2 separate regions of the Homo sapiens genome follow, and region 1 is linked to region 2. The links come from fine-mapping of genetic effects on gene expression. A gene starts in region 2. The other region holds a variant in brackets. All regions are shown on one strand. Distances are between the middles of the regions. Region 1 holds the start of GAST (gastrin). Region 2 holds the start of HAP1 (huntingtin associated protein 1).

The links. PIP is the estimated chance that this variant, and not a neighbour inherited with it, causes the effect.
Region 1: its variant is fine-mapped to the expression of HAP1 in thyroid (GTEx, PIP 0.97).

What each region holds. Positions count from the first base shown.
Region 1 is chr17:41,705,267-41,721,061 of GRCh38, forward strand. GAST (gastrin) reads left to right here and starts at 7,065. Exons shown (of 3, transcript NM_000805.5): 1 at 7,065-7,121; 2 at 10,166-10,381; 3 at 10,512-10,703. The coding sequence starts at 10,171. The coding sequence ends at 10,606. It also overlaps a transcript of HAP1 not described here and the pseudogene RNA5SP442. RefSeq lists enhancers at 1-578, 2,903-3,430 and a silencer at 12,191-12,485. The variant T/C (reference allele first, on the strand shown) is at 9,236.
Region 2 is chr17:41,727,712-41,743,506 of GRCh38, forward strand. HAP1 (huntingtin associated protein 1) reads right to left here and starts at 6,932. Exons shown (of 11, transcript NM_177977.3): 1 at 6,455-6,932; 2 at 5,008-5,087; 3 at 4,519-4,683; 4 at 4,226-4,407; 5 at 3,927-4,032; 6 at 3,782-3,848; 7 at 490-620; 8 at 51-125. The coding sequence starts at 6,923. It also overlaps the pseudogene RN7SL399P. RefSeq lists an enhancer at 5,821-6,363.

The sequences.
Region 1 (15,795 bases), 22 kb before region 2:
GTCACTCCAACCCACCCCACTCCTGGGCTCAATAGACAACAAAGAAAAGGGAAGAGAAAGAACAAAGACCCCCCTCGATCACCATTGTGTCCCCAGGGTCAGAACAGTGCCTGACACAAAGCAGGCACTTGGAAAATTTGTGTTGAGTAAACAGATGCATGGATGAATGAGTGAATGAAAGAGTGAAAGCACACGGTCTCTAAGCAGGCAGGAGGGTCTGGGATGATGGGCCCTGGTGGAGGGGCTGACACTGAATGGGGTGACAGAACCTCCAGCGATGGAGGAAAGGAGGAAAGGACGGAAGCGGGACTTAGGCAGCTGTGTTCACGGTGGGGAAAAGGGGGCTGACGTCAAATGACCTTGGGAATGAAAGAGAAATGATTCACCACAGTTGCCAGTAACAACCAAGCTGCAGAATATTAATTTGCAATTGAATCAACTGGTCACTTTCGGAAACTTCCTGTCGGTTTTTGCAGGGAGTGGCAGGAGCTGAGGAAGGGGTCGGGGTGGCCTGTCAGGGACCTGGGACCAGCCTGGCAGGTTCAGAAGCAGGACAGGGGCAGCAATCTATGTGCATCACACAGAACTGAGATGACAAACCCTGGGAGGGGTAGGCGGGCTGGGAGGAGCCAGACAGTGGAGGAGCTGGAGGTCACAGTGAAGACAGATTCAGCAGGAGCGAGGCTTCTGGAGAGGGTGGGATGGGAAGCTGTGGGCCGAGAAGAGGCAGCAGCACATGGAGTCCAAGACCCGGGGGTTCCCCAACTCAGCTCCCTCACCTCCTACCTGTTGGGCCGGGGATGAGCCATTCAGCCTGGAACACACCCGAATAAAGACTCCTCTCATCCTCTCACAGAGGGGCCTTTAGGATTATTTTTCCCAGTTAAAACCACTGTTAGGCCAGGCGTGGTGGCCCATGCCTATAAATCCCAGGGCTTTGGGAGGCCAGGAGGGAGGATCACTTGAGGCCAGGTGATCCAAATACAAAGCCTGGGCTGAGAACCACTGCTTCGAAGGCACAGGTGGGCATCAGAGGAGAAAAGGAGAGAGGAGGCTCAGGAGAGAAGCGGAAGCCAGAGTAAGGGTAGCCACTACTCTCTGTCCTTGACAGCCCAGCCTGGGCCCAGGGGTGGTGGGCAGCCTCTCCAGCCCAGTCTGCAAGCAGCTTGCAGGCTGCCCTCTTGGCCCTGCCATGTCACCACTCTCAGACAGCAGCTGAGGCCAGAACCCAAGAACCCACCTCCCCCTACCTAGCCCCCTACCCCAGGGGGGATCATGGATGCCCTCATTGATGCAAACACCTTCCAGGTGTCACTGTTTGTCCCCAGAACTACCACATCCTCCAAAGCCCTGGTTGCCTGGGCCAGAATGATTGAGTCGTCATCAAGCTCTTCCTTTTCTGCCATCAATAACCAATTAGGAAGCCAAGGCACTGCCTCCCTGACAACGGTTTGCAGCTCATCAATAGTGATCTGTTTCCCAAAGCCAGCCCTGGCAGGCAGGAGTGTGCCTGGGTCCACTGAGAAGCCTCTCCCTCCTCAGGGAACAGTCTCCTTCACAGGGGACCCTTGTTTTTCTGTTACTCTTTTTTTTTTTTTTTTTTTTTTTTTTTTTTTTTTTTTTTTGAGACAGAGTCTCACTCTGTCGCCAGGCTGGAGTGCAGTGGCACGATCCCAGCTCACTGCACCCTCTGCCTCCCAGGTTCAAGCAATTCTCCTGCCTCAGCCTCCCAAGTAGCTGGGACTACAGGCACACACCACCACGCCCGGCTTTTTTTTTTTTTTTGTATTTTAGTAGAGACAGGGTTTCACCATGTTGCCCAGGCTGGTCTTGAACTCCTGAGCTCAGGCAATCTGCCCACCTTGGCCTCCCAAAGTGCTAGGATTACAGGCGTGAGCCACCACACCCGGCCGTGTGTTACTCTTTTATGCCCCTAGAATCTAAACTCCACCAAAGCAATGAAAGGGTCTGTCCTGTCATAGTCACCTGTTTTTTTTTTTGAGACAAAGCTTCACTCTTGTTGCCCAGGCTGGCGTGCAATCGCACAATCTCAGCTCATTGCAACCTCTGCCTCCCATGTTCAAGCAATTCTTCCACCTCAGCCTCCCAAGTAGCCAGGATTACAGACGTGCACCACCATGCCCGGCTAATTTTGTATTTTTTAGTAGAGACAGAGTTTCATCATGTTGGTCAGGCTGGTCTTGAACTCCCAAACTTAAGTGATCCACCCACCTCAGCCTCCCAAAGTGCTGGGATTACAGGCGTGAGCCGCTGCACCCAGCGCTGTCATATTCACCTCTTATCCCCAAGTAGCCTCATCTGTACCCTAGCTCACAGCAGGTGCTCAGTAATTGGAATGAATTTGGAATATTCGGATGGTCAGAATAACTCAAAGAACAGCTCCCTTCTTTGTATTTGAAAATTTACATGGAAATTCATGCTGGGCCAGTTTTTACTAAACAGAAACCTTCACAAGGCTGTGATCCCTTGTATCCATTTTTGATTGCTACCATAATAAGTCACCACAATTTAGAAGCTTAAAACAACAGCAATTTATTCTCTCGCGGTTCTGTAGGTCAGAAGTCCTGGTACAGAGTGGCTCACGGGGTCCCCTGATTAGGATCTCCCAAGGCCACAATCAGGTCGGCAGGGCTGCATTTCTTTCTGGAGGCTCTAGGGATGAATCCACTTCCAAGCTCATCCAGGTTGTTGGCCAGATTTCATTCTTTGTAGTTGCGGGGCTGACATTCCTCTTTCCTGGCTGTCGGTGGAGAACCTCTCAGCTCCTCAAGGCCACTGCTTTCCTCGTCCTGTTGCCCTCCTGCCATCTTCAGACCAGCAATTGCTTGTGGAGTCCTCATAACTCCAGCTCTCCGACCTGACCTTCAGCCACATCTCTTCTGCCTCTAGCTGAAGAAAGTTAAGGGCTATGTGATTACACTGGGCCCAGTCAGATAATCCAGCATAAACTCCCTAATTTTTTTTTTCAGAGACAGGGGTCTCACTATGTTGCCCAGGCTGGTCTCAAACTCCTGGGCTTAAGTGATCCTCCTGCCTCAGCCTCCAGAGTAGCTGGGACTACAGGCATGCACCACTGCACTTGGCATAAGCTCTCTATTTTAAAGCCAGTAACCTTAATCACACCTGCAACGTCTCTTTTGTTATGTAATCACATATTCACAGGTTCCAAGGATTGGGGCAGGAACATCTTTGGGGACATGATTGTTCTGCCTGCCACATTCCTACTGGGAGGATAGAGACCTGAGTTTCAGACCCACCTCTCCTTTTTGGTGTGTGGACTCAGGATGGGGATTACTTCACCTGTCTAAGCCTTAGTTTCTACTTCTTTTTTTTTTTTTTTTTTTTTTTTGAGACAGCGTCTCACTCTGTCTCCCAAGTACAGTGGCACAATCATGGCTCACTGCAACCTCACCTCCCCGGCTCAAGCAATCCTCCCACCTCAGCCTCCCAAATAGCTGGGACCACAGCCACGCACCACCACACCCAGCTAATTTTTGTATTTTTTGTAGAGATGGGGTTTTGCCATGTTGCCCAGGCTGGTCTTCAACTGTTGGGCTCAAGTAATCTGCCGGCCTCGGCCTCCCCAGGTGCTGGGATTACAGGCGTAAGCCCCCGTACCCATCAGTTTCTTCTGAAGAAGGGGTTCACACTAGCACTTAGGTCCTAGGATCATGGTGAAGAGTGATTGCATTCATTCATGCTAAGAGCTTATCAGTTCCTGGTACACGGCATTGTTATCGTTGTGATGACAGGGGCAGGGCCCACACACCTGCACCCTCGAGGGGGACGGAGATGGGTCCCAAGGTCTGGGATCTGGTCTTCAATTTGGTAGGCCCAGAAATTGAATTTTCTGCTCACCCAGCTAGTCGGTGTTAGAGCCATGATTCAAACCCTGGCCTCACCAGTTCCAAAACCCCCTGTACACCAGGAGGTCCAGCTTCCATAGACTCTATCCCTGCTGCCTCTTTCAGTGGCAGTTGGGCTGAGGTCCCTCTGAGTCACAGCTGGCAGGAGGGAAACCCTTGGATTCACAGAGTGATATGCTTAGGGAATTACCCTCCTTTAAGCCTTGGGGAAGGAGAACTCCCCCAAGTGTATAAAGCGTGTGCACAGACCTTGTCACCTCTTCCCTTCACTGCAGCCCTATGAGGTACAAATGAATGATTCCTATTTCCAAATGTGGTTAATTGAGACCCAGAGAGGATGGGGGAGAAGACGCAAAATGGATTAAATACCTGCGATATTCTCTTTTGTTTGTCTGTTTGTTTGAGACAGTCTCACTGTGTCACCCAGGCTGGAGTGCAATGGCACAATCTTGGCTCACTCCAACCTCCACTTCCTGGGTTCAAGCAATTCTCGTGCCTCAGCCTCCCAAGTAGCTGGGATTACAGGCATGTGCCACCACGCCCAGCTAATTTTTGTATTTTTAGTAGAAACGGGGTTTCACCATGTTGTTCAGGCTGGTCTCGAACTCCTGACCTCAGGTGATCTGCTTGCCTTGGCCTCCCAAAGTGCTGGGATCACAGGCATGAGCCACCGCACCCGGCCAAATATCTGCAATGTTTTGAGCACCGTGCAGGGCGCTTTATGTACATCACCTTCACGAGACCCTCCTCCCCAAGTTACTTTCCTCATTTCCTAGAGGAGAAAACAGCTCAGAGAAGGAGAGAAATATGCTCAAAGCTCAACAGCTGGAAAAAGACAGGACCAGGAAACCCTTCCTTTTCCATCAGACGAGGTCCCCTCATGAGGAGAACGTGCAGTCCGTGACTGGGGAGCTCCTCAGGGTCAAGGATGCTCATCTCTGAATGCAACCCTTCCCCTGCAGACCTGGCAGGGTCTGCAAATAGTGACATTCTTTTTTTTTTTTTTTTTTTTTTTTTGAGACAGAGTCTCGCTCTGTCACCAGGCTGGAGTGCAATGGCATGATCTCAGCTCACTGCAACCTCTCTGTGCCTCCCAGGTTCAAGCGATTCTCCTGCCTCAGTCTCCCGAGTAGCTGGGATTACAGGCGCCCGCCACCATGCCCAGCTAATTTTTGTATTTTTAGTAGAGTCAAGGTTTCACCATGTTGGCCAGGATGGTCTCGATCTCTTGACTTCGTGATCCACCTGCCTCAGCCTCCCAAAGTGCTGGGATTACAGGAGTGAGCCACCAAGCCTGGCCAAATAGTGACATTCTAACCATTGCCTATGGAATAGGAGACATGCTTCTATTTGTTGAAATTGTCATCCCTCATGTAACCAGCCTGGGGAAGAACATTCAAGGGGGCATAACCCCCTCCATGGGCACAAACTGAGTCTTGGGCTCTGGTACAACCAGGGTTCTACTGAAAACTTATCATTTCCCATTAGTGTTACCATAGCAACACGAATGTCTTCATTCATTCCCCTAGTGTATGAACAGAGCTACACTCACCCCACCTGTTCTCCCAAGCCCCCTCAAAGTCCTTTCATCTCTGAGATTCTGTGATTCAATTAATTATCACCAATGCCTGCACTGCTTTTTGTCGTTTTCATTTATTCCATCTGCTGAGTCACCGTGTCCTGCTCTAGATGAGAGTGGTTATTCACAACGGTTATTCAGCCGTCAGTTGCCATGGACACCGCACAGCCTGCTTCCTTCATCACCCATTAATTCTCAGCAAGGCTGGCTGTAAGCATGGGTACCACTGCAGTTACCCAATACCCAAGGGGATCAAACTCTCCCAGAAAAGGTGGGGGCCCAATGACGCATGAACAGGAGCAAAATCTCTGCTCTCAACAGTGGAAAAGTAAAAAACAGCCTACGGCTCATTACATCTGGTCAAACCATGTGGAGGCAGCAGTTTATCAAATAAGTCAACAAGGTACCATTTTGTTTTCTGGTCCATCTTTGGCAAATGCTTTAGTCTGTTTGCTAACCATTTGAAGGTATATTTTGATACTGAAAAGTTGTTGGCTGGGCATGGTGGCTCACGTCTGTAATCCCAGAACTTTGGCAGACTAAGCTGGGCCGATCATGAGGTCAGGAGTTCGAGACCAGCCCGCCCAACACGATGAAACCCCATCTCTACTAAAAATACAAAAAATTAGCCAGGCGTGGGGGCGTGCGCCTGTAATCCCAGCTACTAGGGAGGTTGAGGCAGAAGAATCGCTTGAACCCAGGAGGCGGAGGTTCCAGTGAGCCGAGATCACACCACTGCACTCCTGCACTCCAGCCTGGTGACAGAACTAGACTTTGTCTCAAAAAAAAAAAAAAGTTGTTATGCAGATTACTAGCTCCCCTTGAAAGCAAAATGAAGGAGGCTTCAAAGGCAGGACCCTCCAGGAATTGGTTCTGCATAGGGGGTTTGCAAGTGGTGGTGCATGGGCAGCTGACCTAGAAGACACGGGGCAGCTACAAGCCAAACCCAGCCCAGCACAGAGGGCCTAAGGAGAAGAAGGCACCAAGGGTGTTCCATGGTAGGGGGAGGGTGAAAGGACTTCAGAGGTGACCAGGATGTGAGCCACTAGAAGGAGAGAACAGGGCCATCAGCCCACAACCCATTGCTCCTGGTAACACGTTATGTTTGCAGAGTCCAGTGGAGGGGACGGGGAATCAATACATCACCCCACATTCACACGCTTGCCAAACATCAGTGGATGGCGAAATCCACTTTCCCTGAATCTAAGCCCATCGGGTTCACTCCCTCACCTACCACCACCCACAAAGGTCCCTATGTAGTTCGAGAGATAAGTGCCAGGCCTCTGACCCCCAGGATATGGTGGGAAGCATTGCTCCTGACCCAGGGAGCTTGGTTCCTGCCCCTCAGGTACAGCTGGAGAGCTGCCGCCACCCCGCTCCAGCCCCTCACCATGAAGGTCAACTCCCCTATCCTTCCCCCACATCCTGGATGACTGACTGACACTAAATGAAAGGGCGGGGCAGGGTGATGGGCTGTACCTGTGCCCCACCCCATTCCTCTCGCCTGGACTCATATGGCAGGGTAGGGGCGGGGTGGGGGGACAGTTGGGAGGGACCTTGAGGGCTTTATAAGGCAGGCCTGGAGCATCAAGCAGAGCAGAGACCTGAGAGGCACCAGGCCCAGCCGTGGCACCACACACCTCCCAGCTCTGCAGGTGAGAAAACCCAGGAGGAGAGGGGAGAGGCTAGGAAGTGGGTTGACAGGTCCTCTCCCCCATCAAGGTACCAGGCCACTGGCCAGAGTCTGGGGCTCACCCCTTGGGGTCTCCAGAGCTGGGACCCTTTCTTTATCCCAGGATGGAACTAGGTCTTGGCTCCAGTACCTACCCTGGTATTCCCAACCTTGCCTTCCACCTGCCCTTCTGCCGCAGCCGGGGCCCTGCCCTTAGCCTATCCCTTCACACTCTTCCCAGCCCTGGGAGGTGAGGAGGACTGGGGTTCTTCTCCTTTCTCTCAGACAAGAAAACTGAGGCCCAGAGGCAAGATGTGACTTGCCCAAAGTCACAGGGATTATTAGGCAAGGCTGGGATAGGAATCCACAGCTCCTGGATCCCACTTCAAGCCCTTTCCTAGACCAGTGCCATCCAAAAGAACGTCCTATGATGCAGGAAATGGTCTTCATCTGCACTGTTCAATATGGTAGCCACTAGCCACGTGTGCGCTTGAAATGGGGTTAGTGTAAGGAAGTTTTTGTTGTTGTTGTTGTTTGTTTTTTTATATAGAGTCTCGCCGTGTCACCCAGGCTGGAGTGCAGTGACATGCAACCTCTGCCTCCCAGGTTCAAGCAATTCTCCTGACTCAGCCTCCCGAGTAGCCGGGATTACAGGCGCCTGCCACAACACCCAGCTAATTTTTCATATTTTTGGTAGAGACAGAGTTTCACCATGTTGGCCAGGCTGGTCACAAACTCCTGACCTCAAGTGATCCAACCCCCTCAGCCTCCCAAAGTGCTGGGATTACAGGCGTGAGCCACTGCACCTGACCATAATTTTTTAATTTAATTAATTTAAATGTAAAGAGCCACATGTGGCTGGTGGCTATAGCACTGAACAACACATGTGGTTAGCATCTGACAATACAGCTCCAGATCACTGATTTTTCAAACATTTCTTCAGCAGCAGAATTCTTTTCTTCCAAAGAAAACCTAACAGAAAACCTGATTATGAAAAACTTAATGGCCAGGCACCGTGGCTCATGCCTGTGATCACAACACTTTGGGAGGCTGAAGCAAGCAGATTGCTTGAGCTCAGGAGTTCCAGACCAGCCTGGGCAACATAGTGAGACCTCATCTCTACTAAAAATAAAAACAAAAAAATTAGCTGGGCATAGTAGTGCACACTTGTAGTCCCAACTACTCAGGAGGCTGAGGTGGGAGGATCTCTTGAGCCCAAGAGGTCGAGGCTGCAGCGAGTCAGGATCACGCCAGCCACTGCATTCCAGCCTGGGAGACAGAGCAAGATTCTGTCTCACAAAAAGAAAAGAAAAAAAGAAAAACTTAAAAGCAGTACAGTATTTTATTAATACAAATGTATTCTGACAAGAGAAAATTTTTATCATTTTCTTATGATAAAGCCAATCAGAATAGTGAGACCAAAAGCATACAAAAATAGTGAGTCCAGGGAATAGATGAGCATTTGAATTTTATGTTTGTTTGAGATTCCAGTTTAGTTCTGTATTATGTTTTCCCCAAACTTGATTCACCCTGATACATAATTGCTAATGGTGACAGCTTAATTTTTTCTTAACTGCTTCATTATAATCACAGGATATTCCTCAGTTAAGCAAAAATGACAGGAGAACCTTTCCTCTCAGGGCTGCACAAAAATCAGTGTGAGCTGGCCAAGCATTGAATGTGCTGCAGTCTCCAAAGTGATAACATGCGGTCTGTAACACAGCTGGATGTCCATGTTCCTTTGGTATTACTATTTAAAAGTTTCACTTTTTGTTTTTGTTTTTTTGAGACAGGGTCTCACTCTGTCGCCCAGGCTGGAGAGCAGTGGTGCAATCTCGGCTCACTGCAACCTCCACCTCCCCGGTTCAAGCGATCCTCCCACCTCGGCCTCCCAAGTAGCTGGGAATACAGGTGCATGCCACCATGCCTGGCTAATTTTTGTATTTTTTGTAGAGATGGGGTTTCAGTATGTTGCCCAGGCTGGTCTCAAACTTGTGGGCTCAAGGGATCCATCCTCCTCAGCCTCCCAAAGTGCTGGGATTACCATGCCTGGCCTAAAAAGTTCACTTTAAATAACAAGTCTTGGGCTGAGCACAG[T/C]GGCTCACATCTGTAATCGCAGCACTTTGGGAGGCTGAGGCGGGAGGATTGCTTGAGCCCAAGAGTTCAAGACTAGCTTGGGCAACATGGTGAAACCCTGTTTCTACAAAAAATACAAAAAAAATTAGCTGGACGTGGTGGTGCAAGCCTGTAGTCCCAGCTCTTCTGGAGGCTGAGGTGGGAGGATCACCTGAGCCCAGGAGGTAGAGGCTGCAGTGAGCAGTGATTGCACTACTGCACTGCAGCCTGGGCGACAGAGTGAGACCCTGTCTCAATAAATAAATAAATTACATTACTTAAACAGCTACAGAACCACTAACATGGCCTCAAATTCTGCAGAACAGAACCTAGGGAAACCATTGCCCTAGGATTTGACTTTCTCCAATAGAAGCAGTGGCTGTAATCGGGGTAGGTAAAGAGAAAAAACACAAGACTTCGGGGCTGGTGTGGAACTGGCAGAAACTGGAGAACTGATCTGAAGAAATAGTCCACAACTCCACACAGAATTGCAGACTCACCCGGGTGCGGTGGCTCATGCCTGTAATCCCAGCATTTGGGAGGCCGAGGCGGGTGGATCACCTGAGGTCAGGAGTTCGAGACCAGCCTGGCCAACATGGTGAAACCCCATCTCTACTAAAAATTACAAAAATTAGCCAGGCATGGTGGCACGTGCCTATAGTCACAGATATTCTGGAGGCTGAGGCAGGAGAATCACTTGAACCCGGGAGGCGGAGGTTATAGTGAGCCGAGATCCCACCACTGCACTCCAGCCTGGGCAACAAGAGTGAAACTCTGTCTAAAAAAAAAAAAAAGAAAGAATTGCACACTCATCAGCAGGTAGAGGCCTGGAGCCACATGGTTCAGTCCCCTGCCTCTGGGCCTCTGTGGGGACAGCCTCACCCTTAAGCTAGTCCCTTCTCCCCTTTGCAGACGAGATGCAGCGACTGTGTGTGTATGTGCTGATCTTTGCACTGGCTCTGGCCGCCTTCTCTGAAGCTTCTTGGAAGCCCCGCTCCCAGCAGCCAGATGCACCCTTAGGTACAGGGGCCAACAGGGACCTGGAGCTACCCTGGCTGGAGCAGCAGGGCCCAGCCTCTCATCATCGAAGGCAGCTGGGACCCCAGGGTCCCCCACACCTCGTGGCAGGTAGGAGCTGCTGACTGCCCTGCTTGCCTCACTTGGCCAGGTTTGGCCAAGGTCTCCCCAGACTGGCTCTGACTTCAGTTCCTGGAAGGTAGGCATCCTTCCCCCATTCTCGCCTCTCTCACCTCCTCAGACCCGTCCAAGAAGCAGGGACCATGGCTGGAGGAAGAAGAAGAAGCCTATGGATGGATGGACTTCGGCCGCCGCAGTGCTGAGGATGAGAACTAACAATCCTAGAACCAAGCTTCAGAGCCTAGCCACCTCCCACCCCACTCCAGCCCTGTCCCCTGAAAAACTGATCAAAAATAAACTAGTTTCCAGTGGATCAATGGACTGTGTCAGTGTTGTAGGGCAGAGGAGGGGGACTCATCTGGGGGTGAAGTTGTGGCAGGGAGAAGAGCTGAGTGCCTCTTAGGGGCAGGGACCCTGGCTGATTCTTCTTGGGTCCCCCAGAGCCCCACATTGAACGAGAATCCACAGGTATGGGCAGGATAATATATGGTAGGGTTCATAGCCAGAGTAACCTTTTTTTTTAATTTTTATTTTATTTTATTTTTGAGATGGAGTTTCGCTCTTGTCTCCCAGGCTGGAGTGCAATAATGAGACCTCAGCTCACTGCAACCTCTGCCTCCTAGGTTCAAGCGATTTTCCTGCCTCAGCCTCCCAAGTAGCTGGGATTACAGGTGCCCGCCACCACACCTGGCTAATTTTTTTGTATTTTTAGTGGGGACGGGGTTTCACCATGTTGGCCAGGCTGGTCTTGAACTCCTGACCTCAGGTGATCCACCCGCCTCGGCCTCCCAAAGTGCTGGGATTACAGGCATGAGCCACCGTGCCCAGCCTCAGAGTAAGCTTTTTAAAAGATAAACCGTGTCACACTCGGTTTTAACGTTGCAATGTTTCCCAGTGCACTTAGAATACAACCTGAACTCCCTGCCACAGCCCTGAAAGCTAGCCCTGAGGTTCTCCTCCCACTGTGCGCCAAGTGGCTTCCTTCTCTTTGTCCTCTCGGTCCTTTCCCTTACACAGACACGCCATGTTCTCTCTTGCTCAGAGCCTCCGACCTTGCCATTCCCTGTGCCTGCAACGCTCTTCCCCAGGCACAAATATGGTGGGCTCCCCTTTCCTCCTTAGCTCTTGGGTGAAATGCCTCTTCCTGAGAGACCTACCCTTTCTGCTCCTCACCCTTCACACATAGACCCAGTTATTCTCTACCACAGGGTCAAATAAAAGAGAAAAAATTAAGCTTTTTAAAGAATGAATGCTAGTTGTATTCAGAAGTCTTACAGAGGACTATAGATTGAGGCCTCCAGCCCAGGAGCAGGCTCTGGCACAATGTTTCAGCCCATTGCTTATATACATCTGGGGGCTAAAGGTGGAGGTTCCGTATGTGCAAAATCCCATCAGACTTGCTCAGAATTACATGACAGCAGAATCACAGCAAGATTTGGGTCCTAGATCACAGAGGCATCATCACTAACCTCGTCAGATGTCATCTTGGAAATGTTCTGTGTCAGAAAAGCCAGGGACTAGGATTATTTCTCTTTTAAGAAACGTGAAGACTCAAGCCGGGCGCAGTGGCTCACATCTGTAATCCCAGCACTTTGGGAGGCCGAGGAGGGTGGATCACTTTAGGTCAGGTGCTCGAGACCAGCCTGGCCAACAAGGTGAAACCCCGTCTCTACTAAAAATACAAAATTTAGCCAGGCATGTGCCTGTAGTCCTGGCTACTCGGGAGGCTGAGGCAGGAGAATTGCTTGAACCCGGGAGGCAGAGGTTGCAGTGAGCCAAGATTGCGCCATGACACTCCAGCCTGGGCAACAGAACAAGACTCTCTTTCAAAGAAAAAAAAAAAAGAAGAAGAAAAGAAAAGTAGTGACTCAGCCAAGAGACATGGGAGGGCCTCAGGCTCTCTCCTGTGCTGTCTTCAAAGCATCTTTCCGGAGGGCTGCACGTCTGTCTCTAGTCACAGAGTCAGGTGCTTTGTGAAACTGTGCCGACAAGCAGAAAGGAGCAAACACAGCTTCTTAATGTTTGTTGCTTTGTCTCACAATAGCAGAATATTTTCTTTAGAACACATTTCACAATCTGTAGTTGTTTTGTTTGCCAGTTTATTGTCTGCCTCTCGGGCAAAACAGGAAACTGGGAGCGTGACAAGTCCCTCCTCCCTTCTGTATCCCCGGTGGCAAGAATAGGAGGAACCCAATAAATATTTGTAAATAATTGCTCATGAGTGGCTGGTGCAGGCATTGCTGGTGTCTCACTCCATTCCATCATTGTTCTTGTGCCTGTTGACACCATTACCTTGAGCTACCCGCCACCTGAGGGCTGTAGAGGAGGGAAAGTGTTTTCTCTACCCATCTTAGGTCCTCGGCTGGGGCTCTGTTATAAAAGACAGATTACAAGAGAAAAGCAAACAAGTTTATTAACATGTGTATCACACATTTAACACACAGAGTACCCAGAGTTGAGTAACTCAGAGAGGTAGCTTAGAATTCAGGCTCACACTGTCTACGGCCATACCACCCTGAACGCGCCCGATCTTGTCTGATCTTGGAAACTAAGCACGGTGGGGCCTGGTTAGTACTCAGATGGGAGAATTCAGGCTCACAGAGCATCTTCAACAAAGAACAATACATTTGTAGGCAAGATAAAGGACAGCAATTTTTAGACTTCCAAGGGTGGCTAACTGTGTGTGGGAAACAGCTTTCTGCCCGTGGGAGCTGAGCCCTGTCCCCTCTCAGGGCTGGGTCTGGTAGCCAGTGGGCCTCCCCCGGCTTCTCCTGCCCCCCTGGGCTGCCATGTGACCCACATCCGGCAGTCACAGCTCTTGTGCCAGCTGCAGAACAAGGGCTGGGGTTCCTACCGCCTGTCCCAGAAGAGGGCTGAGGTCCAGGCCCCCAAGCTCCAGCCTAGGTTAGACTTCCAAGGGTGGCTAACTGTGCATGGGAAAGCAGCTATATGGAAAACGAATGGTAGATAAAGGCTAGTGAGTCAAGTTTGTTATTAGATTGCACTGGTGCCACTCCAGGCTGAAAGGGGTCTAAAGTTGTCTCCGACTTGTTCCAGACATTATGGAAGGAAAACGTCCTACGTAAATGAAATTGTCATTCTGTGTCCTCCCACCACAGCAGCAGATGTGTCCTTCCGTTGAGTGAGGGTAACCTTACGTCCACCAAGGATACTTGGAGAAAGTCTATGAGGAGCAAGCTTCAGTCCCACGGTTTCAGACTATTTATGCTCTGAACACAAGAGTACTGGTTAATTATGTTCTCAGCTCTCCTCGCTGTTCTAAGTGTGCACTTGTTGCAAGTAACTTATATTTTTTTATTTGAATGTATTTTATTTTTTTGAGACAGAGTCTTGCTCTGTCACCCAGGCTGGATTGCAGTAGTGCCATCTCAGCTCACTGCAACCTCCACCTCCCAGGTTCAAGCGATTCTCCTGCCTCAGCCTCTCAAGTAGCTGGGATTATAGGCAGGCACCACCATGCCAGGCTAATTTTTGTACTTTTTAGTAGAGGTGGGGTTTCACCATGTTGTCTAGGCTGGTCCTGAACTCCTGACCCCGTGATCCACCCGCCTCAGCCTCCCAAAGTGCTGGGATTCTCTAGGTGTGAGCCGCTGCACTCAGCCTGAATGTATTTTAAAGCAGTAGATAGAATAACAAAGGAATATGAAAACCATGGATTGAATGGACCATTTTATGTATTCAGAGAGACGAGCCACCATCATTGCCAGAAATACCATGTAAAAATTGGCAATTTGGCCAGCCGCAGTGGCTCACGTCTGTCATCCCAGCACTTTGGGAAGCCAAGGCAGGCGGATCACCTGAGGTCAGGAGTTCGAGACCAGCCTGACCAATACGGTGAAACACTGTCTCTACTAAAAATACAAAAATTAGCTGGGCATGGTGTTATGCATCTGTAATCCCAGCTACTCAGGAGGCTGAGACAGGAGAATTGCTTGAGCCCAGGAGGCAGAGGTTGCAGTGAGCTGAGATCACGCCATTGCACTCCAGCCTGGGAGACAGGGCGAGACTCTGTCTCAAAAAAAAAAAAGGCAATTTGGAGATTGCAGTATTTAGTAAACAAATAAATGATCAACATTGTGCAACCACTACCAAAAAGTGTATTGTAATGCATCAAAAATCAACATTTTATTCACTAATGAGTATCAATAAAATAAGTCCAAATTATGGAAACCAAAAAAATAATAAAAAATAAAGTTGTCTCCAGATATTTAACTTTTTTTTTTTTTTTTTGAGACAGAGTCTCACTCTGTTGCCCAGGCTGGAGTGCAGTGGCACGATCTTGGCTCACTACAAGCTCTGCCTCCCGGGTTCATGCCATTCTCCTGCCTCAGCGTCCCAAGTAGCTGGGATTACAGGCGCCCACCACCACGCCTGGCTAATTTTTTGTATTTTTAGTAGAGGCGGGGTTTCACCGTGTTAGCCAGGATGGTCTCGATCTCCTGACCTCATGATCCACCCACCTTGGCCTCCCAAAGTGCTGGGATTACAGGCATGAGCCACCGCGCCCAGCTTTATTTATTTATTTATTTATTTTTGACACAGAGTTTCGCTGTTGTTGCCCAGGCTGGAGTGCAATGGGGCAATCTCGGCTCACTGCAACCTCCGCCTCCCAGGTGCAAGCAATTCTTTTGCCTCAGCCTCCCAAGTAGCTGGGATTACAGGCATGTGCCACCACACCTGGCTAATTTTGTATTTTCAGTAGAGACAGGGTTTCTCCATGTTGCTCAGGCTGGTCTTGAACTCCTGACCTCAGGTGATCCACCCACCTCGGCCTCCCAAAGTGTTAGGATTACAGGCATGAGCCACCGTGCCCAGCCCAGAGATTTAACTTTTATCCTTCCTGGTAGATGGACACAGTTGAAAATGTATGTCCTGTTTTTATGCAAATAGGAGGGTAGGGAGCTTTTCTTGTATCTGCTTCTTCTCAATTGCCTTCAGCTCAAAATAGTCCTTATGCCAAAGTGGCATATTTGGAGGTAACACATTCTAATTTCCTTCAGGGCCAAGTGCAGGGCAGTTAAATGCCTCCAGAAGCATCTCTCAGACAGTGTCAGATGACAGTTAGAGGATAAATACCCCAGCTCCCCCACCCAAGGGGTGGGATAACTCTGAGATATATTCTTTTTTTTTTTTTTCCTTGAGACGGAGTTTCACTCTTATTGCCCAGGCTGGGGTGTAATGGTGCAATCTCAGCTCACCGCAACCTCCACCTCCTGGATTCAAGCGATTCTCCTGTCTCAGCCTCCCGAGTAGCTGGGATTACAGGCATGTGTGCCACCATGCCCAGTTAATTTTGTATCTTTAGTGGAGACGGGGTTTCTCCATTGGTCAGGCTGGTCTCGAACTCCTGACCTCAGGTGATCCACCTGCCTCGCCCTCCCAAT
Region 2 (15,795 bases):
TGGGCCAGCGGCTCTCCAGGGTGGGGGCAGAAGCCGGCAGCGAGACTCACCTCTTCCTGGAGCTGCATCTGGATTTCCTTCTCCGAAGCCAGCTGCTTCTGCAACTTTTCAGTCTCAGCCCCATACTGGAAGGACCCAAAACCAGTGAACCCCCATCTGAGGCCTACCCACTCAGGGCACCCCCTGCTTCCAGCAAGTCTTCCCAGGCACATCAGTGAGTCCTTGGCAGCCCATGAAATGACAAGTCACACGGAAGGAGGGCAAAGAAGGCAGGGGAGTCACGCAGCCTGGTTCCTAGAAGACTCCAGGACCCTCTCTGGGCCTTGGTCTCCTCAAGATAACAAGGGGTCAAGATAAGGGGCTCTCTGAGGTCTCTGACTCTGACACAGAAAGGGACCTCAGGCCTGGTGGAGCCGAGTGGAGGCAGGAAGAAGGAAGCTAGGGTCCCATGGGGCCACGACAAGAGGGTTCCACACACACCCGACTCACCATCCGGCAGCGCTGCTGCAGCTTCAGCACCTGGGCCTGCAGCCGAGCGACCTCCTGCTGCTGCCGTTCATAGTTTTCCAGCCTGAGCACCAGCACCTCCGACAGCTCAGCCATCTGTTGGCTGGCCTCCGCTGGGGAGGGCAGAGGACAGGTCAGCCCTGGCTCCCCTGGCCTTCAGGGACCAGCTCTGGCCCTCCCAGATGCCTCTGTCTCCCCCACCCTCGGCTGCTGCGCTGTGCCAGTGGGTCCTGCAGGGCTTTGCATTCCTCACTCAGGTCTTCCATTCAAGAAATGTTCATTGACTGATACTGAGCAGGGCACCAGGGTGAGTGGTCAGTAAGACCCAGCCGCCACACTGAGGTAAAGTTGGTGGGGAGACAGACCACAGTCACACATCATACAGGCCATGATGGGCAAATGTCAAGGGTGTACAGGGCAGGGGCATCACAGCTACAGCACCCAACCCGACCTGCAAGGTAAGGAAGGATTCCTGGAAAAAGGAACCACTAAGCTAAGACCACAGGGCAAGTGAAGCTCACCCAGGCAAAGAAGGAAAAACATGGGTCCAAGCTGACTGGAAAGGCCCAGAGGCCATCATAAGACACTGGGACGGGGAGGGCCCAGAACAGTGCACACAGGCCAGACCACAGTAGTGGGCAAGGGGGTGGGGTTTATCCTTTGGCCAATGGAAAGCTATTTGGGAGTTTTAGGCACAGTAATGACGTGGTCAGACTTGGGTTTGTTGGTTTATTTATTTATTTATTTGAGACCGAATCTCTGTCGTCCAGGCAGGAGTGCAATAGTGCAATCTTGGCTCACTGTAACTGCCGCCCGAGTCCAAGCGATTTTCCTGCCTCAGCCTCCCGAGTACTTGGGATTACAGGCATGCGCCACCACGCCCAGTTAATTTTTGTATTTTTAGTAGAGACGGGGTTTCACCATGTTGGCCAGGCTGGTCTCAAACTCCTGACCTCAAGAGATCCACCTGCCTCTGCCTCCCAAAGTGCTGGGATTACAGGGGTGAGCCACTGCACCCGGCTACTTGTTTTTTAAGAAATGAGGTCTTGGGACAGGCACAGTGGCTCATGCCTGTAATCTCAGCGCTTTGGGAGGCTGAGGGGGATGGATCGCTTGAGGTCAGGATTTCAACACCAGCTTGCCCAACATGGTGAAACCCCATCTCTACTAAAAATACCAAAATTAGCTGTGCATGGTGGCGCATGCCTGTAATCCCAGCTACTCGGGAGGCTGAGGCAGGAGAATCGCTTAAACTCGGGAGGTGGAGGTTGCAGTGAGCAAAGACCACACCACTGCACTCCAGCCTGGGTTACAGAGGGAGCCTCCTTCTCAAAAAAAAAAAAAAAAAAAAAAAAAAAAAAGGAAATGCGGTCTTGGCCGGGCGTGGTGGCTCACACCTGTAATCCTAGCACTGCGGGAGGCCAAGGCGGGAGGATCACTTGAGGTCAGGAATTCAAGACCAACCTGGCCAACATGGTGAAACCCCATCTCTACTAAAAATACAAAAATTAGCTGGGCACGGTAGCACAGGCCTGTAATCCCAGCTACTCAGGAGGCTGAGGCAGGAGAATCACTTGAACCTGGGAGGCGGAGGTTGCAGTGAGCTGAGATCATGACATTGCTCTAGCTGGGCGACAGTGAGACTCCGTCAAAAAAAAAAAAAAAAAAAAATTTGCCAGGCGTGATGGCACACACCAGTAGTCCCAGCTACTCAGGAAGCTGAGGCAGGAGAATCACTTGAACCCAGGAGGCAGGGGTTGCAGTGAGCCAAGACTGCAACACTGTACTCCATCTCAAAAAAAAAAAGAAAGAAAGAGAGAGAGAGAGAGAGAGAGAAGGAAGAAAAGAAAGAAAAGAAAGAAAAGAAAAGAAAAGAAAAGAAAAGAAAAGAAAAGAAAGAAAGAAAGAAAAAATGAGGTCTTGCCAGGTTCCCAGGCTGGGGCTGGAGTACAGTGGCTATTCATAGGTGCGATCCTATTACTGATCAGCATGGGAGTTTTGACCTGCTCTGTTTCTGACCTGAGCCAGTTCACCCCTCCTCAGGCAACCCAGTGGTACTCCACTCCCTGGACCATACTGACCCTGTCGGCATAGTGTACTACAGCCCAGAATTCACAGGCTCAAGCAATCCTCCCACCTCAGCCTCCTGAGTAGCTGGGACCACAGGTGGGAGCCCCTGCACCTGGCCAGGTTTGGTTTTAGAAAACTCATTAAGGCTGTGTGCAGAAGTTCCTGGTAGGGCGCGAGTAGAGGCAGTGCGACCAGTTAAGAGGTATCTTGGGCTAGAGGCAGCCCGAGTGGGGAGGGGGAAAAAGACTTAAGCCATTCCTAGGAGGTAAAAGCAACAGAGCTTGGGGACTGGTTCCTACTCCAGTAGCCTGGGGACCAGTGGGGCCATTCAGGGAGTTGCAGAACCCAGCAGGAAGGAAGGTCAGTTCTGGGGTAAAGGGAACAGCAGGAGTTCAGCTGTTGCCACTTTGCGTTTGCATCTCACCAGCTACACTTGAACTCCTCAGGCACAAACACTGCTCCTCACTCATCTTCATAAACACACAGTGCCTAGGACGATGCCAGGCACAGCCACTGCCCCGTGCATGACTCTGAACTGTCCCAGCCCTGGGTGCCTGGTCTCTGGCAGCTCATGGCTCCCTCTTGCCTGCCCCAAATAAGAGAAGACAGGCTTGGAGGAGACCCACCTTTTTTTTTTTTTGAGATGGAGTCTTGCTCTGTCGCCCAGGCTGGGGTGCAGTGGCGTGATCTAGGCTCACTGCAAACTCTGTCTCCCAGGTTCAAGCAATTCTCCCACCTCAGCCTCCCAAGGAGCTGGGACTACAGGCTTGTGCCACTGCATCTGGCTAATTTTTGTATTTTTAGTAGAGATAGGGTTTCTCTAAGTTGGTTAGGCTGGTCTCAAACTCCTGACCTCAGGTGATCCGCCGGCCTCAGCCTCCCAAACTGTTGGGATTACAGGCATGAGCCACCGTGCCTGGCCTGAGACCCACAATTTCTGTATAGCTCTTTATAGTTTGCACAAAGTACTTCCTCAGCTGTTGACACTCTTAATCTTCATAAACCCTGGAGAGATCAGTGGGGCTGAGAAAATTAATCCCCATTCTAAAGACAAAGGTTCAGAGAGGTCAAGGAATGTATCCAAGTTCACACAGCTAGGAGTGCCAGATCTGGGACTTGAACTTGGATCTCCATACTCCACATCTTGAGTTCTTTTCTCTGCTCCTTGGGACAACCCCCCACCCCGAGTGACAACATTACGTACAAAACTGCTCCACACACTCCAGAATGAGCATCTGTTCCTCATCCTCAAGAGTGTCGAGTTGAGAGGCCTGGAGGGAGACAAAGAGGAAGGGACAGGGAAGTCAACACCCCCTGCTAGCAGGGACGCCCTCCTCCCCCATTCTCACCTCTTCTCTCAGCTGATGATTCTCCTCCTCCAGCAGCCTCAGCTTCTCCTGCAAGGCTTCCAGCTGTGGGCAGTGGTGCTGGTGCAGCAATGCCTCCTGCGAAATCCTAGGGGAGGGAGGAATGGGAGTCAGGGTGCAGGGAGTGGGGCTTCCCAGTTCCCAGCCCACCAGGGCTAAGGGCAGTGTTCTCAATTAGTTCCAGCAACCCTGCCAGCAAGCACATCACCTGTGTCCCTCTTAACAAATGAGGAAATTGAGGCTCAGAGAAAGGACTTGCAGGTGCAAAGGCAGGAACTCACAGCTTAGGGGCATCACAGGGATGAGCACACTGCAGGTCTTCCTCTGCTTCTTCTTCTTCCTGTTCCTCTTCTGCCTCCTTTTCTTCCTCCTCCTCTTCTTCATCCTCATCCTCCTCATCAGAATCTGAGTAGAGCTGGAGGAGCTCATCCCGCAAGTTCACCTGGTGTCTGAGGTATAAAATCTGGCAGGAAGAGAGAGGAGCCATGGGTTGGGAGTGGGCAGGGACAGGAGAGGGTCCTGGCATGAGGCAGGTGTAGATTGGCCCGCTATCCTCTCCTCCCCACCCGGTTACCTCCTCCTTGGCTGAGCCCAGCAGGGCTTCCAGCTTGCTGTTCTCCTCCATCAAAACACTGTTCTGTTTCACCAGGGACTGGCCGATGCGAGCTGCAGTGTTCAGGTCCCTCTCTCTCTGCAGGACCATCCCATAGGTAACGCTCTCCCAGACAGGTGGGAGAAGCTGGGGGGGACACAGGGGTCAGAGAGAGGCTAGGCCCCTAAGAGAACCTTCCCCATCCCCTAGTTCTCTAGGGTACCAGACCAGAGTCTGCCATTAACCCACTGTGGAACCTGGCTCAGTTTCCCCTCATGGAAAAAGAAGATCAGACCAGATTGGCTCTGAGAGCTCTTCCAGCCTGAACATCCCACATCGACCTGTCTTCCATAAGAAGGACCCTAACCTGGGGCCCCAGAGAGACTGCCAATCAGGAAATAAACAAGACCCCCACCCCTACAGGACAAAACTAGAATAAGGGCTTGCCTGGATCAGGAAGGCAGTACACACCTCCTCCAGCAAATATAACATCACTTTGACGTCTTCCTGGGTGATCTTTTTGACTGGCGGAGGTAGGTTAGGACACAGTGCTGCAGGAGGCGGCAGGTGGGGAGAAAAGGCCCAGCCAGGTCAGGAAAAAGGAGCAGATGCTACCAGCAAACAGCTGTTTCCCGTCCTATCGTCAGTTCTCCAACAAGGGTCATCGGGAGAGAAGACTGGGCTCCCCTCCTGCCCCCCACATCCTCCCCTTACCCCTCGGCACTCAACACTCCCTTCCCTGCTCCCAGGGCCAAGTGGACAGGGTTTTTAGGTTTTTGGGTTTTTTTTGGTTTTTTTTTTTTTTGGTTTTTTTTTTTTTTTAGACAAAGCCTTGCTCTTGTCCTCCAGGCTGGAGTGCGATGGCGAGATCTCAGCTCACTGCAACGTCTGCCTCCCAGATTCAAGCAATTCTCCTGCCTCAACCTCCCGAGTAGCTGGGGTTATACACGCCCGCCACCACGCCCAGCTTATTTTTGTATTTTTAGTAGAGACGGGGTTTCACCATGTTGGCCAGGCTGGTCTCGAACTCCTGACCTAGTGATCCGCCCGCCTCGGCCTGCCAAAGTGCTGGCTGGGATTACAGGCGTCAGCCACCGCGCCCGGCTTTTTTTTTTTTTTTTTTTTTTTTACCCCTGGAGGAGCCTGAGGTAAGGGGGTCACAGTCCTCCAGGCTCAGAAACTGGGCTCTCCGGACACCTGGGTCCCTGGCGCCTAGAATGGAGACAGCCAGGGGAAGTACAGCCTCAGACTGGCTCATCACCCCCTACCCAGGAGGCAGTGCAATGGAGTCTCCTGGGTCATACAAACAGACGCAGCCACTCACCCTGCACCTGTTGCGTGTGCAGAGGACAGGAGGAAGACTTCACCAGATTAGGAGACACTCGAGCCTCTAGGCCCAATCCAGAGATCTCCCCCGACCCGCAGGAGGATAGGAGAGACAAGGGGCAGGAAAAGAGCGCGACTTTGCCCCCATACCCGCAACCAAAAAGTGGGCAAAACTTCCCCCTCCGCCCGCCCACCCACCCCTCCATCGCACGCAAGCCCGGTCGGCCAGCGCAGACTCAGAGCGCGCGGGACAGCGCCCTCCCGCAGCCCCCCGCCCCTCTCCTGGCACTGCGGTAGACCCAGGAGAGGGGCGCTGAAGGGGTGCAGATCTGCCGCAGCAAGAGGCGCGTGGAGGTGGGTGGGCGAGCGTGCAGGCCCCAGAACCTGACTCACGGGCACAAACCAGGGGACAAGAGCAGAGGAGGAGATGGAGAAGGGGCGACCAGACAGACACCGCAGTGACATCGCGGGGGTGGTGGACGGGTGACACTGAGTGCTAGAGGGGGCGGGGTGCCTGGACCCGATGGGGCCACTTCCTCCCTGGAGTTGCCCCAGTCCCCACCCGGTCCAGGACCCCGGGGGCCCGATTTACCTTCCTCCAGCTCCCGAATAAAGGCGGCGCGCTCAGGGCCGGACACCCCGGGTCGCCGGCCAACGTAGGCGGCTGGCGTCTTCCAGATGCCCGCTGCCTTTCCAGTCCCCCGGCCAGTGGCCCGGGAACCAAACGGCCCTTGGAATACGAAGCGGGTCCACGGCGCGTCCGAATTGTCGGGCATAGACCGGACATCCCCTTGGATGGCCGAGAATGCGGACGGGCGCCGGGCTCCTGCCTTGGCTCCAGCCTCCGAGGCCGGGCGAGCTCCGGTGCGGGCTTCCGAGAGGAACTGGGATCCAGAGGTGGCTCGGGATCCTACTCTCTGTCCAGTGCCCCGTGCCTGCGGCTGCGCAGAGGGCTCCGGAGCGGGACTGGCTGAGGGCGAAGGTGCACAGGTGAGTGCTGCTGGGTCCCCGGGTCCGAGCCGGCTCCCCGCGCAGCACCGGCCCAACCTCTTCGGGCGCATCTCGAGTCTGCCGTCCGCTGCTGCGGCGGGACCTTTATAACCTGCGCCAGCCGCCGGGCCGGACCACGCGTAGGGGTGGGGGCTGCCGAGAAGCAACTAGTGGCAAGCGGGACTCAGAGCCGCGCGGGAGGGGAGCTAGTGGTGACGGAACAGAGCACAGTAAGAAAAGCAGGGCAAGAAGGGCGAGTGCAAGTTCCGGATGGCTCCGAGTTGGGATGGGAGCGAAAGATTTTTTCTGCCCTCTCCATCTCCGGAGAATGGTTCTGCCCAAAGCCGCGGCTGCCCCAGCACTCGCGGGTCCCTGGCTGGGGGCAGCCCCTCCCCAGCTGCCGCGCCGGGGTTTCGGGTGCCTTCCCTGGTGTAGAAGCTGCCAACCCAACGTTGTGCATACGGTCTGGGGTGGCCAGTGCATTAGGGCAGCGCTGCGTCTTTCCCGGTTGACTGGGAGAGACATTCCAAACTCCAGTGCGCTTCCAACGTGCTGCAACCCTGCCTGGCGCTGCAACCCTGCCTGGCGCTGCAACCCTGCCTGGCGCTGCAACCCTGCCTGGCGCTGCAACCCTGACCCTCGCGCTCACACCCCAGTGCTCGCGCCACTCGACGTCTTCCATTTGATTGGATTAACTGTTCTTCACCTCCAACCCTAGTTCGCTTTGCCCTCCTCTTGCCATGCTGGCGAACCCCTGTTCTCCTTGGGAGACGCCTCTTAAAAGTCTCCCTGTAGCCGGGCGCAGTGGCTCACGCCTGTAATCCCAGCACTTTGGGAGGCCGGGGCAGGCGAATCACCTGAGGTCAGGAGTTCCAGACAAGCCTGGCCACCTGGTGAAACCCTGTCTCTACTAAAAATACAAAAATTAGCCAAGCATGGTGGCGTGTGCCTGTAGTCCCAGCTACTCAAGAGGCTGAGGCAGGAGAATTGCTTGAACCTGGAAGGTAGAGGTTGCAGTGAACCGAAATTGTGCCAATGCACTCCAGCTGGGGCTACAGAGCGAGCCTACCCCTCAAAATAAATAAATAAATAGAATACTTTTTTTTTAAGTATCCTACTGGAAATGTTGGGTAGACAATTAGATGTATAAATCTGAATGTAGGGGAGAGACCGGGCTGGAGATTTAAATGTAGGAGTCATTGTTCTTTGATGACCATTTAAAGCTATGAGACTGGTGAGATCCCCAAGAGACTGAGAGAAGACAGGTAAGAGCGCCCAGGACTAACCCCCTAGGATTCAGAGGGCAGAAAGAAGAAGAGGAGGCATCAAAGGAAGACTGGGATGAGTGGGGCAGTGAAGTAGAGGAAAACCAGGAAAGTTGGGTCCTAGAAAGTAAAGAAAATGTTTCATGTAGAGAGTGGCCACCTGTGTTGGGTGGTGCTGTTGGGCCAGGCAAAGACTGAGGACAGAGACTCAGCTTGGCAAACTGGGGTCATGGGCAACCTTGGTGAGCTGGGGTCATGGCCTCGGCAAGAGCGGTCTTGCGGGGCCAGGCACAGTGGCTCACACCTGTAATCCTAGCACTCTGGGAAGCCAAGGCAGGTGGATCACCTGAGGTCAGGAGTTTGAGACCAACCCAGCCAACATAGTGAAACCCCATCTCTACTAAAATACAAAAATTAGCTCGGTGTGGTGGAACAAGCCTGTAAGCCCAGCTACTTGGAAGGCTGAGGCAGGGGAATTGCTTGAACCCAGGAGGCAGAAGTTTCAGTGAGCCGAGATTGCACCACTGCACTCCAGCCTGGGCAACAGAGCAAGACTTGTCTCAAAAAAAAAAAAAAAAAAAAAAAGAGCGGTCTTGGTAGAGGGGGTGAGAGAGACCAAAGAGGAGTGAGGAAATAACGAGAGGTAACAAAATGAAAACAGAAAGAAGGCTAGGCGCTGTGGCTCACACCTATAATCCCAGCACTTTGGGAGGCTTAGGAGGGTGAATTGCTTGAGCCCAGGAATTTGAGGCCAACCTGGGCAACATGGCAAAACCCTTTCGCTACAAAAAAATACAAGAATTGGCCGGGCGCAGTGACTCACACCTGTAATCCCAGCACTTTGGGAAGCCTAGGCGGGTGGATCGCCTGAGGTCAGGATTTTGATACCAGCCTGGCCAACATAGTGAAACCCCGTCTCTACTAAAAATACAAAAAATTAGTTGAGCATGGTGACGGGTGCCTGTAATCCCAGGTACTCAGGAGAATCGCTTGAACCCGGGAGGCGGAGGTTGCAGTGAGCCGAGATTGCGCCATTGCACTCCAACCTGGGCAACAAGAGCGAAACTCCGTCTCAAAAAAAAAAACATAGCTGGGCATGGTGGTGCATACCTGTACTACTTCAGGGGCTGAGGTGGGAGGATCACCTGAGCACAGGTCGAGGCTGCACTCCAGCCTGGGTGACAGAGCAAGACCCTGTCGGAAGGAAGGAAGGAAGGCGGGAGGGAGGGAGGGAGGGAGGAAGGAAGGAAGGAAGGAAGGAAGGAAGGAAGGAAGGAAGGAAGGGAGACAGTATAGAAAACTGTATTGAAGAAATCTGCAACAAAGGAGAGCTGGAAAAGGGCACAGGAGCTGAAGGAGGACATGAGTGCTGGGGAGTGTGTTTTGAAGATGGGAGAGAGGACAATATGTTTACATGCTGATGGAAATGTTCCCTCAGGGAGGAGAAAACAGGTGCAGAAAAGAGAGCTTATCTCCCAGAATACTTCTGGAAATGGAGGAACTTTCATAACATAACCGTTCTCCTCCTTGTTCAAAGTCTGCATGTTTTATTTTCTTTCTTTCTTTCTTTCTTTTTTTTTTCTTTTTTTGAGACGGAGTTTCGCTCTTGTTGCCCCAGGCTGGAGTGCAATGGCACGATCTCGGCTCACCACATCCTCCACCTCCCGTGTTCAAGCAATTCTCCTGCCTCTGCCTCAGCCTCCCCAATAACATGCGTCACCACATCCGGCTACTTTTGTCTTTTTAGTAGAGACGGGGTTTCTCCATGTTGGTTAGGCTGGTCTCGAACTCCCGACCTCACGTGATCCGCCTCCCCCTTGGTCTCCCAAAGTGCTGGGATTACAGGCGTGAGCCACTGTGCCCAGCCCAAAGTCTGCATGTTTCCTATGGTTTCTTTGTCAGCAGAAAGCTTGAAGGAGACACACAACCCCAGGGTTTGCTACGACAGTGAGGTTGAAGAACATAAGGAGGTGGCTGTTCGGGCATCGGCACAGCCCAGGCTTCCGTGAGGCTACAGCTCCATAGGCTCTGCCGAGTGGTCCTCCCACAGCCCAGCTTCCTGGACTGTCTCTCTGTGCCTTGGACATCTCTGCAGCCCCAACCACCAAGCACAGAACAGGGCATACAGAAGAAGCCTATTACACTCCTGCTGAATTAAATTGTTTCTGGCCCCATGAGGAAGAAGCCCTGGGAAACCCCTGGAGAGTTTGACGGGGAAGAAGGCAGAGGCAGTGGGATGGAGAAGACAGAGATGAAGTTAGGAGACCCTGAAAGCTCCCCCAGCTGACCACACCCTCTAGGTCAGCGCACTGGCAGCCAGCAACTCTGGCTACGGCCACCAGAGGGCAGTGTCAGCCCGTATACCTCCCCACGTGGCTTCCTCACCTACAGGCTCAGTCGCCCCACAGAAAGTGGAGTAGGGACAGAGACTCCATTTTACAAATGGAGAAACCAGGGCTCAGGGCCCGTCATTCTGGAAGTAAGCATTTTGGCCTGGCTGACAGATATCTGCCTTTCGACAGCCTAGGGCTGTCCAGGAGACTGGGGGTAGTCTCTGATCCAGGCCTCTCAAGTGGTTTTCCTCTGTCAACCACCCCCTCCCTCTCCTGCTTCTCATCTAGGGGGAGAAATCAGACACAGCAAAGACCCTTGGCCTCCTGTCCTCCCTCCCAGTGTGCATCCATGGACCCTCCTGGATCCGAAAGAGGATGGGAGGGTGCAGAAGACTTGCCAGGCTGCAAAGCCAGACCACCCACCACCTAATTGTGCACACCCCCTGAACCTGGGGCACATTCACTCCAGTGCCCAGCCCTGGGCAGCACACAGGTGGCTCAGGCCCCTCCTCCTGCCCCCTCCCCTGGCCTGACCCTGGGAAAAAAAACACCTGGAACAGGGTAGGTAATAGAAAGAGCCCCTAAGGGTCGGTGCCAGGGACCTGGGGGGGACAGGCACCGGGGTTACTTTCTGCAGGGGAGCAGGGTGGAGGGGCACCCTGAACTAGGAACAGGGGAGACCTCCTCACCCCCGCCGCAGTCCTGCTGTCTCCTGCAGGCCTTTCGGGGGCCCTCCCCCATCTCTGATCCAGGCCTTCCCCTCCAGAACCAGGCAGTGGCCGCCATAGCCCTCACCCCCACCCCAGAACCCAGGTACAGTCCCTCCTTACATCAGCAGAGAATGGGGGACTTGAGGGCCTAGGCCCTCAGAGGTTCCCCTTTAACTTTTCTTTTTGTTTTTTTGAGAGGGAGTCTCACTCTGTCGCCCAGGCTGGAGATCAGTGGCATGATCTCAGCTCACTGCAGCCTCCGCCTCCTGGGTTCAAGCAATTCTCCTGCCTTAGCCTCCCGAGTAGCTGGGACTACAGGCACATGCCACCATACCCATCTAATTTTTGTATTTTTAGTAGAGACGGGGTTTCACCATTTTGCCCAGGTTGGTCTTGAACTCCGGACCTCAAGTGATCCATCTAGCCTCGGCCTCCCAAAGTGCTGGGATTATAGGCATGAGCCACCACACCTGGCTCCCTTTAACTTTTCTCCTCTTCTTAAAGAGCCCAGCCCAACTCCTGGGCCACTGAGCCCCTCTGGCCTGGAACAAGGAGGTAACGAGGTGCTGGGGGCAGCTGGGGGTCTGAGCCCTCTGCCTGCTGTCTTCCATGGCCCCGCTGCTGGCCAGGACCGAAAGGGAGAGAGGCAAGGAGAGAAAGGACAGAGAGCAAGTGCCGGGGACGAGGGCAAGGGGCTGAGGTGGCTGGGACCTCAGGTGGAGAGTACTGACCCCCACTCTGAAGTTCTTCCCCACCTGGGGGCTCCTATCCTGGAGGAAGGCCCCGCCTCCCACACAGGCTCACTCCTGCTCTTGGTTCTGATGTCTGACTCCTCCTCTGAGAAGCCCTCCCTGGTGGGGCTCACCTGTGTTAGGTATCCTGTGCCAGATCAGGCCTCTCTGTGTCCTCCCCTCCCCTGGCATTCTCTCCCGACTCTGTCCGCTCACAGGGTAAGATGATGTCATTGACAAGATGATCTATTTAGTAACAATGAGAGCAGTATCTGTTTTGCTCACTTTTGTATTCTCAGGACTCTAATGAGGCATCCAATAAATATTTGTTGAATGAACACATCAGTGGATTCTCTGGGTATGGATGGTGGGAGTGGTAATCGCCCTGGGGAAGTGACTTCCGGTAAGGGTGAGATCCTAGGACTCTGGACTCCCAAACCAGGGCTCCACATCCCCTGGCACAGGTGAGCGCCACCAGGAACCCTCCAGGGGCACCTGTGGGAGAGGATGGAGACCGGCCAGGATGTGAGCCACAGATCCCCAGGGAGTGAGCCTTGGCACAGCCAGGTGCCCACTTCTTCCCTAGAGCCCTCAGCCCAGCCCCGCTCCTTTCCCCAGGGACCAGAGCAGGAGGCCTGGGCTGGCCTGATATGGAGCTGGGTCCAGCAGGTCGGCAGTGCCCTGACCTGGGAAGCTCCACGGGAAGCAGCTGGGAGTGGGGGGACCACAGCACCCTCTGTGAGGAGGGCAGGACCGTCAGCTGCGTCCAGCCTGCTGGACAGGCAATACCAGGTGGTGGCGAGCCTAGAAGGATGTTCTGGCCCTTTGGCCTCCCTGAGCTACCTCCAGGCTCAGGGATAACACCAAGGAGCCCTTCGCTCCCTGACCTCTGTCCCCAGAGTCAGCAATTCCCTCTCATCCCTGCGTCCATGTCCAGGCTCTGAGCCCTTCCAGGGACAATTTGTGGGATTGGGGATAGAGACAGAGGAATAAATACACATTCACTGAGACCTGACTAGGTGCCGTATGGATTTTGGATATATTTCATTTTATCATCACTGGAAGGAAAAAAATACTGCTGTGTTATAGATGAAAAACAGAAGCCCAGAGAGGTCAAGCAACTTATCCAAGGCCACACAGCCAGGAAGTATCAGGGAGGGAAGATCACAAAGGCTTGTCTTACCAACAGCCCATGTGCTGTCCACGGCCTCCCAGTTCAGAGAAGAAGCTGGGCGACCCTCCCTCTCCCGTACCCAGGGGTGCCTGTGCTCACTGGGTTTGCTTCCACATAATACTACTTATGAGCCAACTGTTAGGTCTTATAAATTAGATGCCCACCGTGGGCATCTGCCCCATGGCCTCTGGAGGAATCCTGCCAGAGGATGGAGATAAAGGAAGGACAAATACCAAGTGCCTTTTGCAGACGCTATGTCCGCTCTTCCTTCTTCAAGCCTCAGCTCAGACGCCACCCAGTCTTGGGAGCCTCCCCTGATCTAACCTGGCTGGATCTGGGTCCCTGCCTCCCAGATCCAATGTGCTTCCCTCTACCTCAGCCTTCCACACACTGGGGCAAAAGCAAGAAGGGCTTCTGTGCCCAGCTTTTAGTATCTGAGCCTGCCTTGGCCCATGCTTGATGGGCTCAGAGGGAAACACTTGTACTCTGACATAAATCCGAAATAACAGAATCATCCTGACTGGTTCCAGTCTTCAAAATAAGAAAGACTGAGTTTTCACCATAAACCTGGACTCCTGGCCGGGCGCGGTGGCTCACACCTGTAATCCAGCACTTTGGGAGGCCAAGGCAGGCAGATTGCTTGAGCCCAGGCGTTTGAGACCGGCCTAGGCAACATGGTGAAACCCTGTCTCTACAAAAATACATAAATTAGATGGACATGATTGTGCACGCCTGTAGTCCCAGCTACTTGCGGGGGCTGAGGCAGGAGGATTGCTTGAGCCCAGGAGGTCAAGGCTGCAGTTAGCCGTCTTCCCGCCACTGCACTCCAGCCTGGATGACAGAGCAAGACCTTGTCATAAATAAATAAACAAAGAAACAAACAAATAAATCTGAACTCCCTAACAAAAAATAAGCCTATTCCTAAAGCTAAGTCATGACCTTTGTGATAAGGTAGTGAAATCGTTGTGGTTCCCATGGCAGAACGGATAATGTCAGGCTTTCCTTTACATCCTTGCCGTGTTTTGTATCTGCCCCGCCAGGCCTTCTGAAAAGGAACCCCCTTTACTCCTCATAAGTAAACGTTCCTCTCCTCTATGTGTCTGTCTCTTTCTTTGACCTGGGCTATAAACACTGATTTCTCACCTGTGGGCCCCACTCAAGGCAGGGGTTGGCAGTCTTCATCTGTGCATTCCAGAGCCTGGTGCAGGCTAGCAAGCTTGAGCGCTCGATAAATACTTACCGGATAACTTAGCAAACTAGGAGAGCAGGCAACACCCTGACCCCAGGCGCTTCCTCAAGGCCCAGCTCTCCCCAAACCCTCCTCCAGGAAGCCCAGAGCATCCTTCACCTTCTCCAACCACATCACGCCCATTGGGCTACAGGAGGGCCTTGGGCTGCCTCGCAGGTGGTCATTGACACTCTCCCGTGTGTAGAGGTCTCAGCTTGACCAAAAGCTACAGCATCAAGAACACAGACAGCTCCTCACATGCTTGTGGTCACCCCACCTGGGCACCTCATACCTAGCAGGGGCTCCAGCAACGTGCGCTGATTCCTTAGTCTGGAGGGCAGGCTGTCATGGTGTAGGTGGGGCAAAGTGGCACCAGGGATGCCCTCAGGGCCTGGCTGGGCCCTTCACTGCTACAAGTGGTCTCCAAAGTGGAAGATGTTCACTGCTGTCCTGACCTCTCAACCTCTCAGCTCTCACTCAACAGTAGACATCACAGAGAGTCTTTGCAGAGGTTTTTTTCTTCTTTTTTTTTTAGATGGAGCCTCACTCTATCGCCCAGGCTGGGGTGCAATGGCATGATCTCTGCTCACTGCAACCTCCGCCTCCCGGGTGCAAGTGATTCTCCTGCCTCAGCCTCCCGAGTAGCTGGGATTACGGGCACACACCACCACGCCCAGCTAATTTTTTGTATTTTTAGTAGAGACGGGGTTTCTTTCTTTCTTTTTTTTTTTTTCTTTTGAGACAGAGTCTTGCTCTGTCACCCAGGCTGGAGTGCAGTGGCGTGATCTTGGCTCACTGCAAGCTCTGCCTCCCAGGTTCATGCCATTCTCTTGCCTCAGTCTCCTGAGTAGCTGGGACTACAGGCGCCCGCCACCACACCTGGCTAATTTTTTTGTATGTTTTAGTAGAGACGGGATTTCACCATGTTAGCCAGGATGGTCTCAATCTCCTGACCTGGTGATCCACGCGCCTTGGCCTCCCAAAGTGCTGGGATTACAGGCGTGAGCCACCATGCCCGGCGTAGAGACGGGGTTTCATCATGTTGACCAGGCTGGTCTCGAACTCCTGACCTCAAGTGATCCGCCCACCTCGGCCTCCCAAAGCGCTGGGATTACAGGCGTAAGCCACCTTGCCGGCCCCTTGGCAGAAATTTTTTTTTCTTTTTTTTTCTTTTTTTGAGACGGAGTTTCGCTTTTGTTGCCCAAACGGGAGTGCGATGGCACGATCTCAGCTCACTGCAACCTCTGTCTCCTGGGTTCAAGCGCTTCTCCTGCCTCAGCCTCCTGAGTAGCTGGGATTACAGGTGCGCGCCATCACGACCAGCTAATTTTTTGTATTTTTAGTAGAAATGGATTTCACCATGTTAACCAGGCTGGTCTCAAACTCCTGACCTCAAGTGATCTGCCCGCCTCGGCCTCCCAAAGTGCTGGGATTACAGTAGGCATGAGCCACCGCGCCTGGCCAGAGATTTTTATAAGACCTCCCTGGCTTTCAGTTTCCCT